Linked DNA regions of Homo sapiens: region 1 is linked to region 2. Evidence: fine-mapped expression QTL. A gene starts in region 2. The other region holds a variant in brackets. All regions are shown on one strand. Distances are from middle to middle. Region 1 overlaps USP36 (ubiquitin specific peptidase 36). Region 2 holds the start of USP36 (ubiquitin specific peptidase 36).

What was found. PIP is the estimated chance that this variant, and not a neighbour inherited with it, causes the effect.
Region 1: its variant is fine-mapped to the expression of USP36 in monocytes (Fairfax 2014, PIP 0.95).

What each region holds. Positions count from the first base shown.
Region 1 is chr17:78,802,490-78,807,852 of GRCh38, reverse strand. It overlaps USP36 (ubiquitin specific peptidase 36), which reads left to right. Exons shown (of 21, transcript NM_001385174.1): 14 at 217-894; 15 at 1,567-1,697; 16 at 3,875-4,468; 17 at 5,318-5,363. Among named protein-coding and RNA genes, the nearest start is that of CYTH1, 23 kb to the right of the region's middle. The variant TG/G (reference allele first, on the strand shown) is at 3,357.
Region 2 is chr17:78,837,941-78,843,303 of GRCh38, reverse strand. It overlaps USP36 (ubiquitin specific peptidase 36), which reads left to right and starts at 2,490. Exons shown (of 21, transcript NM_001385174.1): 1 at 2,490-2,568; 2 at 4,554-4,717. LOC124904067 (a long non-coding RNA gene) reads right to left here and starts at 2,190. Exons shown (of 2, transcript XR_007065923.1): 1 at 1-2,190. RefSeq lists silencers at 2,003-2,102, 2,563-3,082 and enhancers at 2,223-2,412, 4,007-4,521, 4,522-5,036.

The DNA of each region.
Region 1 (5,363 bases), 35 kb after region 2:
ACACGGCTGTGGTCCCTGTTCTTGGGATGTCACAGAACACCAGAATTGTTCAGAGAAGCCACAGTGTCTTTACCAAGAGTCCAGATAAATAATTTATCTTGAGCATGCTAATCAGAGGCCATGCCTGCTACTAAGATTCACTGTGGCCTTAAGAAGATGTGGCCCAGCTGAGACTTCTCGCTTCCTCAGTTGTGTTTTCTGCTTTGGTCTCCTTAGCGACAAGACTCTGGGACGATGAAGAAGCCGCACACCACTGAAGAGATTGGTGTGCCCATATCCAGGAATGGCTCCACCCTGGGCCTGAAGTCCCAGAACGGCTGCATTCCTCCAAAGCTGCCCTCGGGGTCCCCTTCCCCCAAACTCTCCCAGACACCCACACACATGCCAACCATCCTAGACGACCCTGGAAAGAAGGTGAAGAAGCCAGCTCCTCCACAGCACTTTTCCCCCAGAACTGCTCAGGGGCTGCCTGGGACCAGCAACTCGAATAGCAGCAGATCTGGGAGCCAAAGGCAGGGCTCCTGGGACAGCAGGGATGTTGTCCTCTCTACCTCACCTAAGCTCCTGGCTACAGCCACTGCCAACGGGCATGGGCTGAAGGGGAACGACGAGAGCGCTGGCCTCGACAGGAGGGGCTCCAGCAGCTCCAGCCCAGAGCACTCGGCCAGCAGCGACTCCACCAAGGCCCCCCAGACCCCCAGGAGTGGAGCGGCCCATCTCTGCGATTCTCAGGAAACGAACTGTTCCACCGCTGGCCACTCCAAAACGCCGCCAAGTGGAGCAGATTCTAAGACGGTGAAGCTGAAGTCCCCTGTCCTGAGCAACACCACCACTGAGCCTGCAAGCACCATGTCTCCTCCACCAGCCAAAAAACTGGCCCTTTCTGCCAAGAAGGTGGGTGTGTGGGGGTCTCGCCGCTGCTGTGTATCAGGAGAGCTCCAAGAGTTGCTTGGTTGTGGTTTGAAGGGAGTGAGAACATTGTCCGGGGGCTTTGGCCTCCCTCATGTTAGAGGAACAAAGTGTCTTTTAGTCGTTCCCAGCCATTTGCAATTAAAGAACGGCTATCTTGGGGTGAAGGCAGTATGGGGTGTTGAGAGAGCCCTGATCTGGTGATGCTCATGTGACTCATGGAGGTTTGGGCAAGGTAGCAGTTCCCTGTTTTCACAGTAGGTGGAAGATCCTGACTGAACCCGAGGGAGGGTGGGCCCCACCAGCACGTGTCCCTAGCAGGGGTGGGGCGGGCAGGAAGCGCAGAGCCCCAGTGGGGTGCCCGGCACCTCTGCAGCAGGAAGCTTGGGCAGCCACGGCACGTGGATGTGATTGTTGTGCTGAGATTTTTGTTTAAATTTTCTTCCTTTTTTTTGTTTCTAACCAAAAATACTTTTCTGGTTCTTCTTCTACCATTCCCCTGCCCCTCACCTCCCCTTTTTGTCTTCTTCTGTCTCCTCATCTTTTTTTCTGGGCTCTTTTGTTTTTATTTTCATTTTTTGTTACTTTTGTTTTCCCTCTTCACTCACGGAAACCTTTTTTAGACCACCAAGTTTTTATTTATGTCGATAACTGCAGGCCAGCACCCTGTGGAGGGCGACCGGCAATGACCTCCGTCCACCTCCCCCCTCACCATCCTCCGACCTCACCCACCCCATGAAAACCTCTCACCCCGTCGTTGCCTCCACTTGGCCCGTCCATAGAGCCAGGTAAGCTTTGGGCCGGGATCTTCTGGGTGCCAACTGGTTCTCCCTGTGGTTGCGTGTGCTTGGCTGGTGAGGAGTTGGACGAATCGCCAACCTCACAGGACAGACAAAGCATTGGGGCAGCCAGGAGGTACAGGGGGGCGTCACTGACCAAGATCCCCCTCTTCTGTGTTCCCCTGTGGTAAAGGAGCTTTGGGTGGTGAAGGCAGTTCGGCCTCTGCAGTCCTGATGTCTTAGTTCTGTCTTTGTTGGTGGTCTGTCTGCGACATCCTTGTGGTGATGTGGTGTGCTGGGGACTGACCTGTCCTGTATCCCTACCAGCCCCATGACAGTACTTCCCAGTCGAAGAGAAAGGCGAAGTGAGGCCTTGGCGAGAGGCTTGAGTGAGCTCGGAGTCCCGAGCGTTTTTTGTGGGACGTCTTGCCTGCTAGCGTCATGCAGGTTAAGAACTGTCTCAGGGCTCTCGGGTTCCTCTGCAGACACCTGCCAGAGATGCAGCCCCTTCCCTGTGCATGTGGGCCCTGGTCCGCAGGGGCTGCCTGCGTCTCTTAGGTGCCTCGAGTGGCAGGAAGTTGAGAGTAACTGGTAAATGGCTGTCTGGAAGCCGCTGGGAGTGGGGACGGAAGCAGTGAAAGATGGGGTGAGTCATGAGGCGGCCTGCGGGGACTGTACTGGTGGCCTCGGCGCTGGGTTCTAGTTCTAGAATCTCCAGTGCTACATGAGGGCGAGGTATGACTGTGCGTCGCCCACAGCCTCTGCCTTACTCTCCTCTCACATATACACACACAAGCACACCTCTGCCCTATACCTAGCATAAGATTTGTGTACGTGGGAGGGCCTTAAGTGTTTGGGTGTTTTTCGTTTCTTGCCTTATAAGCTTTTTTGGAAAAGATTCCAGAAGACACTTAGAGTAATCAAACATCGTGCAGCTGGCATGGCCCTTATAGTTTGTTTAGATGATGACGGGGGTCCTGTTTTCTGCAGGAACCCTGGGAGGTGGGCTTTGTGGTCCCAGCTCATTGACAAATGAGAACATGGTGGTTCAGAGTGGGAAGTTAATTTTCCTAGAGACACATAGCTGGCAAGAGGGAGCCTCACTGGGTTCGGCACTAGATCCTGTCCCGGACACGCCTTGCTCATGATTCTGCTCTACGCATCTGTGTCCCGGTTTCAGCGTCCTAATGACGGTAATGTGGAGGTGTCATTAGGCCAGCTCAACACTTGCTTTCCTTATGAGGCTCATTTCCTGCCCGGGAACACCCTGAGACTTTCGGAGGTTGGAAAATAAATCCTCACGGGATCTTTTTTTTCCTTACCATTTATTGTTTCGTGAAGGTTTCCTCCCTTAACACATTTGTATTAAAGATGTTTTTACATTAGAGCTCGCAAAAATACTTGAATTGCTTGGTGACAAGAAACTAAGGCATGGAACAATTCTTATTAACTTTGCCTTTTAAAAAAAAAAAAATTTTTTTTTTGACTTTTAAAATCACGTGTTGGCTTGCTTTTTTTTTTTTTTTTTTTTTTTTTTTTAAATCTCAGGGATCAGTTATTTTAAGTTCCAGGGTACATGTGCAGGATGTAAAGGTTTGTTACAGAGGTGCCATGGTGGTTTGCTGCACCTATCAACCCACCACCTAGGTAACTTTGTTTTTTTTTTTT[TG/G]TTTTTGTTTTTGTTTTTTTGGTTTTTTTTTTTTTTGAGACGGAGTCTTGCTTTGTCGCCCAGGCTGGAGTGCAGTGGCGCGATTCGGCTCACTGCAACCTCCACCTCCCAGGTTCAAGCGATTCTCCTGCCTCAGTCTCCTGACTAGCTGAGATTACAGGCGTGTGCCACCACGCCCGGCTAATTTTGTATTTTTAGTAGAGATGGGGTTTCACCATGTTGGCTAGGCTGGTCTCAAACTTCTGACCTCAGGTGATCCAGCCACCTTGGCTTCCCAAAGTGCTGGAATTATAGGCATGAGCCACTGTACCTGGCCAACTTTGCATTTAAATAGATGTTGAATTAATTGTTAGCTTTCTTTCAAACATACATGTAACTTAATGTGTATCTGAAAACTACAGGGTAAAAGCCTTTTCAGATTTTTAGGTGAAAGGGAGGGGAGTGAGGGTAGACAGAAGGAACAGCTCTGCTGGGTCTTTCAGAACATCCTCTCCCTGTTTCCTGGCTGTCCCCACAGGGCTGTGTCACCTGCTCCCCAATCATCCAGCCGCCTGCAACCCCCCTTCAGCCCCCACCCCACATTGCTGTCCAGTACCCCCAAGCCCCCAGGGACGTCAGAACCACGGAGCTGCTCCTCCATCTCGACGGCGCTGCCTCAGGTCAACGAGGACCTTGTGTCTCTTCCACACCAGTTGCCAGAGGCCAGTGAGCCCCCCCAGAGCCCCTCTGAGAAGAGGAAAAAGACCTTTGTGGGAGAGCCGCAGAGGCTGGGCTCAGAGACGCGCCTCCCACAGCACATCAGGGAGGCCACTGCGGCTCCCCACGGGAAGAGGAAGAGGAAGAAGAAGAAGCGCCCGGAGGACACAGCTGCCAGCGCCCTGCAGGAGGGGCAGACACAGAGACAGCCTGGGAGCCCCATGTACAGGAGGGAGGGCCAGGCACAGCTGCCCGCTGTCAGACGGCAGGAAGATGGCACACAGCCACAGGTGAATGGCCAGCAGGTGGGATGTGTTACGGACGGCCACCACGCGAGCAGCAGGAAGCGGAGGAGGAAAGGAGCAGAAGGTCTTGGTGAAGAAGGCGGCCTGCACCAGGACCCACTTCGGCACAGGTAAGGGCAGGAGCAAAGTGGCATCTGTCTACCTCTGACGAGAAACAAAGCAAAACCACAGAATCTACCCCCAAGTAGGTATGGTCTGGAAACGTAGTCTGCTTGCGTGGTTTTCTAAAATGTGGATTTGTGATCAGATGTCTCCTCTGGCTGGGTGTGGTGGCTCACACCTGTAATCCTAGCACTTTGGGAGGCTGAGGCGGGTGGATCACTTCAACCCAGGAGTTTGAGACCAGCCTAGGCAATATGGAAAAGCCCTTTCTCTACCAAAAACAAAAATTGGTTGGGCATGGTGGCATGCACCTATAGTCCCAGCTACTCAGGAGGCTGAGGTGGGAGGATGGTTTGAGCCCAGGAGGTGGAGGTTGCAGTGAGCTGAGATCGCGTCACTGCACTACAGCCTGGGTGACAGCTAAACCCTGTCTAAAAAAAAAGAAAAAAGAAAAAATATCTCCTCTGATAAATACCAGTGGATTGATCCTTGAAGCGACAGTGGTGTGGACAGTAGTGTCCATCATTGTATGTGCAGGGCCGTTCAAGGATGCTGGATCAGGTGTCCCGGGCCAGGCCAGGATCTGCCGTTTCATCAGGTCACAGTAGCCTGCACATTGGCGTCAACAGGCTTGGCTCAGTTAGGATGGGAAACGCGACTGGTTTTCCCTCTACTGTCTCCGTGGCTGCGTGTGGAGCGTCCGCTAATGCGTGTGGGGGGAAGAATGTTGCAGGGACCTGCGTGCACTGGGTCACAGCTGGGGTGGCACCTTCTCCATGTTGCAGGCGGGTGTCTGTGCGCTCCTGCTCCCCTTCCAATTTGCTCAGAGCTGACTGCTGCCTCTCACTTCCAAGCAGCTGCTCTCCCATGGGTGATGGTGATCCAGAGGCCATGGAAGAGTCT
Region 2 (5,363 bases):
GGGTCTCCATGGACCGCACAGACACCTGAGAAAAGGTTTTGCATCAGAGGCTGATGGCAGAGGCTCTACCAGTCCAGCAAGTCACCTGACTGATGTGAAGGGTTCCCCTAGAGCAGGAGGGACATCTGGGCTGAAAACCCTCATGTGAAAAGGCCTGGGCCCCCCAGGCACTCGGCACCTATGAAATGCAACCCCAGCGGGTGGAAAAGCAAGTCCACGATTGCACTCCCCTGCCAGGCTAGGGAGAAATTCTGCTATTGCAGTTCAGGGGCAACACACCCACCCCCGCAGACCTGAGGGTGGCTGCAACTGTCAGCCACACCCAAAGAATGCAGGGCAGGCTCACTGTGGATAAATGTTTATGAAAGAACCACATGGAAATTGAAATATTTGAGATGAGACTGAATGATCTCTAAATCCTAAAAGAGAAAACTAGAGAAACATTAAAGATGAAAGAATAAAATATTCTGTTATAGAAAGCTGTAACCAAAACGGATCACATTAGAACTTACCTCAAGAAAAAGGTGCATTAACAGAATAGTTGTATTGTCACCCAAAAATTACCTGGTCCGCTCCCTGCCTGGGAGGTCAAGGTAAGATGGACTCAATTCCTCTCCTGGTTTCACAGCCTGTAGAAGATGGCTGAAGATTTGGGCTAATTTCGTGAGAGACCTACGTTGCATTTCTTTCTTTTTTTTTTTTTTAGACCAAGTATTGCTCTGTTGTCCAGGCTGCTGGAGTGCAATGGCACGATCTCAGCTCATTGCAACCTCCACCTCCCAGGTACAAGCGATTCTCCTGTCTCAGCCTCCCTAGTAGCTCGGATTACAGGCGTGCGCCACCATACCCAGCTAATTTTTGTATTTTTAGTAGAGACAGGTTTTCACCATGTTGGCCAGGCTGGTCTGGAATTCCTGACCTCAAGCGATCTGCCTGCCTCGGCCTCCCAAAGTGCTAGGATTACAGGCGTGAGCCACTGTGCCCTGCCTTTTTTTCTTTTCTTTTCTTTTCTTTTGAGACGGAGTCTCGCTCTGTCGCCCAGGCTGGAGTGCAGTGGCGACATCTCAGCTCGCTGCAACCTCCGCCTCCTAGGTTCAAGGGATTCTCGTGCCTCAGCCTCCTGAGTAGCTGGGATTACAGGCGCCCACCACCACACCCAGCTAATTTTTGTATGTTTAGTAGAGACGGGGTTTCACCATGTTGGCCATGCTGGTCTCGAACTCCTGACCTCAGGTGATCCGCCCACCTTGGCCTCCAAGTGTTGGGATTACAAGGGTGAGCCACCGCGCCCAGCCCAAGGATTCTTACAGATAGGGCATAGTCTCAGCATCAGACTAATATGGTTATCTTGTTTGCTTTTTTCAAAAAACACCAGCGCCCAGGTAATAAATACAAGGTGAATTTTGTTCCAAGTACATCTAGCCTCTCTCCCCATCTCCAGTCCCTGCTTTAGGATCCGTGGGGAGGGCATGGAAATTCGTTTTGGGTTGTTTACCTGTGACTTCACCCTACTCATCATTCCTACTTACATCAAAAAAGACACAGCAGATACGACTGTGTTTGCAAAGTTCTGCCTTTTGGATAAAGTAGTTTATGCCCATCCTGTGCTTCTCTGAGTTTCTGAGGTCAGGCCAGGAACCAACACTCTCAACCTGCCCAAGGGAATGGGGAGGAAGCCAGCGAAGTTGCCTCAGATCAAGAGGATTTTTAAAAATACTGCAAAAGAAATACGTGCTCACAAATACTCAGCTAAAACCTTCGCAGAGCTGTCAGAGGACAAAGCTTTTGGAGGGAGTGGGTGGAGCTAGAGATTGCACAGCCGCCACCAGCCTACAAAGGTCAAATCTCACACTCTCAGATCCCTAATTCCGAAGAGCCATTTCCTCGGCAGCCCCAGGCTTTGGCCGATCGCTCCCAGATCCCTCCCTCCCCAAACTGCAGGTGCTCCGCGTGTGGGAGTCACGGATGGCCCCAGAGCCCGGGACGTTAAGGCCGAGCGCCCGCGCCTCCGCTTCTCCACAGCCACCTGACGGCCAGGGGCAGGTGGGGGAGCCCAGCCTTCTCCCTGCCCGGGAGACAGCGCGGGAGGGCTGTTGCAGGGGTGGGCAAAGTCCCTCGAGTCCCCGTTCTGGGGCGGGGGCGCGCGCCACTGTCACACTTCAGGCGTCCGCCACGCCGCCAGGTGTGCTCGGCCGACCCGGAAGTAGCGGCACCTCTAGTGCGCTGCGGAGACGTCACCCTGCCGCGGCACAGGGGCGGGAGCGCCTGTGGCTCTGCGCACTTGCGTCATCACGTAGGCTGGCGGGGTCCCGTGATGGGGAGGTGACGTAGGCGACACGGAAGCGGCGGTGGGCGGGGACAGGGAGTTAGCGGAATCTAGCCCCGCCTCTTAAAGCCTCCCAACCCTTTCGGAGTTAGCGCAGCGCGAACGCTGGGTGCGGCGCCTTTAAGCGTCGCGGTGACACGTGTGTGAGGCGCCGGAGGCCCGGATGGTGCGCGTGCTGGGCCGCGGGCCGAAGGAGTCGCCAGGGCTGCGTAGGCTTGTGGCGCGCCCGCGGAGAGGCCGGGGTAGGCTGGGGTCGGGTCGGGGCGGTGCGCAGGCCTGGGGACGAGACCGGGGCGGGGGGTTCCGCGAGGCCTGGGGCGCGGGAAGGGCTGGCGGGCGCAGCCGGGACGCTCAGGGAGAACGTGGGCGCGGGTCCGCGCAGGGCTTCGGCCGTCCCCGAGGAGGACCCGGGATGCTCCGCCCGCTCGCGAGCTCGCTTCTCCAGAGCCCGGGTATTCCCGAGGAGGGTCCGGGGCCGGGCTGTCCTCGCCGGTCTCCGCCGTCCCCCGGGCTCCGGGCCGGTGATGGGGGTCGCCGGGGCCCGCTGTCTGTGCAGGATTCAGGTCAACTTCGGAGAGGTTGAAGTCGGAATCAGGGCGAGGGCGTCGCGTGCGGCCGCAGAGCTCAGCGGGGCGGGTGCGGCCCCGGGGCGGGCACCTTCCTCGTGGTTGCGGAGGAGGCCATGGAGCCCGGGGCGGGGTGCGGTTCCGATGCTGCTGCTTCTGGCGGGTGGCGTGGGGGTCCTGGGCCTGGGGCTGGAGTGGCGGCCGCCAAACCCAGACACACGAGAGGGGAGACTCCGCGCGCCCCCGTTTACGTAACGCTCGCCACGGAGCCATGCTCGGGGAGAGGTGCTCGGGTCGCTGTGTCCGCGGCCGGGCTCGGGGCAGGCGCTGCGGAGTCGCCCGGGAGGCCCCTGGAGCGCGGCGCTGGGCCCCGGGAGGCCGCTGCTTCCGTGGGCTCCTCTCCCCAGCACGTGGTTGACCCTGCGAGCGTCCGTTGCAGTTCATCCTGGAAAAGTGACTTTAGAAGGAGGAGGGAGCGGGAATGAGCCTAAATGGTGCTGGCTGGGGTTCGCGCAGGTGGAAATGTGGATGAGGCCTGTGCTGTCCTTGGACAAGAGAGAGCATCCTTCCTGAGTTGGGTAGAGTGTGGATGGTGTGTGCGTCGGAGGGATTGCTAGTGATTACAGGAACACTTGTCTCGGGCTCCTACACGTCAGAGAGCGAGCGAGCGTTGTTTAGGTTATTGCTTAATGTTTTAGGTGGAATTGGTGAAGTAGAGATTGACCTGTCCCACTTGAAAAATTGTGTTCAAAATCTCTGCATCTACATTAAGGAGTGGGTTAAGTTCAAAGTTACTTATCTCGAGTGAAACTGGGTTACATCTCCCAAGGTTCGTTTATCCCCTCCCTAAGTGGTTCTCAAGCGTTGGTTGTGCATGACAGAGTTCTCACCTTCCAGGGTAGATGTGAGTCCTAACCGAAAGCAGTGATATTGTGGGGAGTTTTTAATACGACTGGATGTCTTCACTTTGTAGATGGCTTTTATTCTGAGATCATTTCCTTACACATTTTTCGGGAGTTGGTATGCTTTTATTTATGGATGAAGTCATAGGTCTGAGATTTGCTGTAGAATTACCTGGGGATGGGAAGTGACTCAGGATGGGTCAGATGTAGTTACTGAGGCTGAATAAGGGGGGCTCATGTGCTCCCTGTGCGGTTCTCCATCTGTGTGTTTGAATGTTTTCACTGTAAACTGTTTTTACGAACCTTAATTTTATGTAATCATAGTGATCGTAGATGGTAATGAAAGAGAAAATCCACACTTAGCAAAGCAAAATTTTGGCAACTCCTATTACTCCCTGAGGTTTGTTGTTGTTGTTATTGAAGTTTTACTGGTTCATTAAATCCAAAACTTGGGGATTTATTACCTCTTACTCTTTGGAAATAAGATTAGACTGGAGCTGACTGGCAGGTGTTGGGGAGGTTTTCCTTCTCTGGGCTTGTCTGGGGTCAAGGTTAAGGTGTTCATATCGTGTGCATTACAACAACTGGTGATGAGGTAGTACGGTCCACCCGCCTCATCCTGAGTGCACGCGTGGATGCTCCTTGGACGGCTTTTTCGTGGTAGAGGGTTCCCGGTGCGCGCCGCATCCCTGGGAAGTAGCTGAAGAGAAGGCACAGGAAGAGTCGCCTCCACTGATGGTCTCCCTGTCCCTCCCACAGGCTCTGACGCCCGCTCTGCGGCTTCGGTGTTTGAACAGGCCACAGTCCAGGAGCGCTTACATTCAGGAGCTCCGCGTAGCACCTGCCCAACCAAACTCAGCCCTCCGTTAAGATCCTGGTTCCATGCCGCAGTAGGACAGCAGGCCCAAGTCTGCACATCCCAGGTGAGTCTGCGAGGCTTCTGTGTATTTTTTGATTCCGTTGAATTGTCTGCATGTGACGCAGCAGTGATTGTTCAGTTGGTGAGAAGTCTTTGATAATTCTCATGAGAAAAGGCTCTTTTATTTTCTCAAATCAGACAACTTATAATGCTTTTTTTTAAATAAGCTTCTGAAATTTCTTTACAGAAGTTTTTTGTTTTTTGTTTTTTTTTTTTTTTGAGACCAAGTCTTGCTCTGTTGCCCAGGCTGGAGTGCAGTGGCGCGATCTCGGCTCACTCCAACCTCTGCCTCCCGTGTTCAAGCAATTCTCTGCCTCAGCCTCCTGCGTAGCTGGGATTACAGGCGCCTGCCACCATGCCTGGCTAGTTTTTTTGTATTTTTAGTAGAGAAACATCTTCGCCAGGCTGGTCTTGAATTCCTGACCTCCTGATCCACCCGTCTCGGCCTCCCAAGTGCTGGGATTACAGGCGTGAGCCACGATTTTTTTTGTTTTAAAGATGGGGTCTCACGATGTTGCCCAGGCTGGACTGCACTGGCTATTCACAGGCGTAATCATAGCTCACTGCAGCCTCAGGCTCCTGCCCTCAAGTTATCCTCCCACCTCAGCCTCCCAAGCATCTGGGACGACAGGCCCAGGCCACTGCACCTG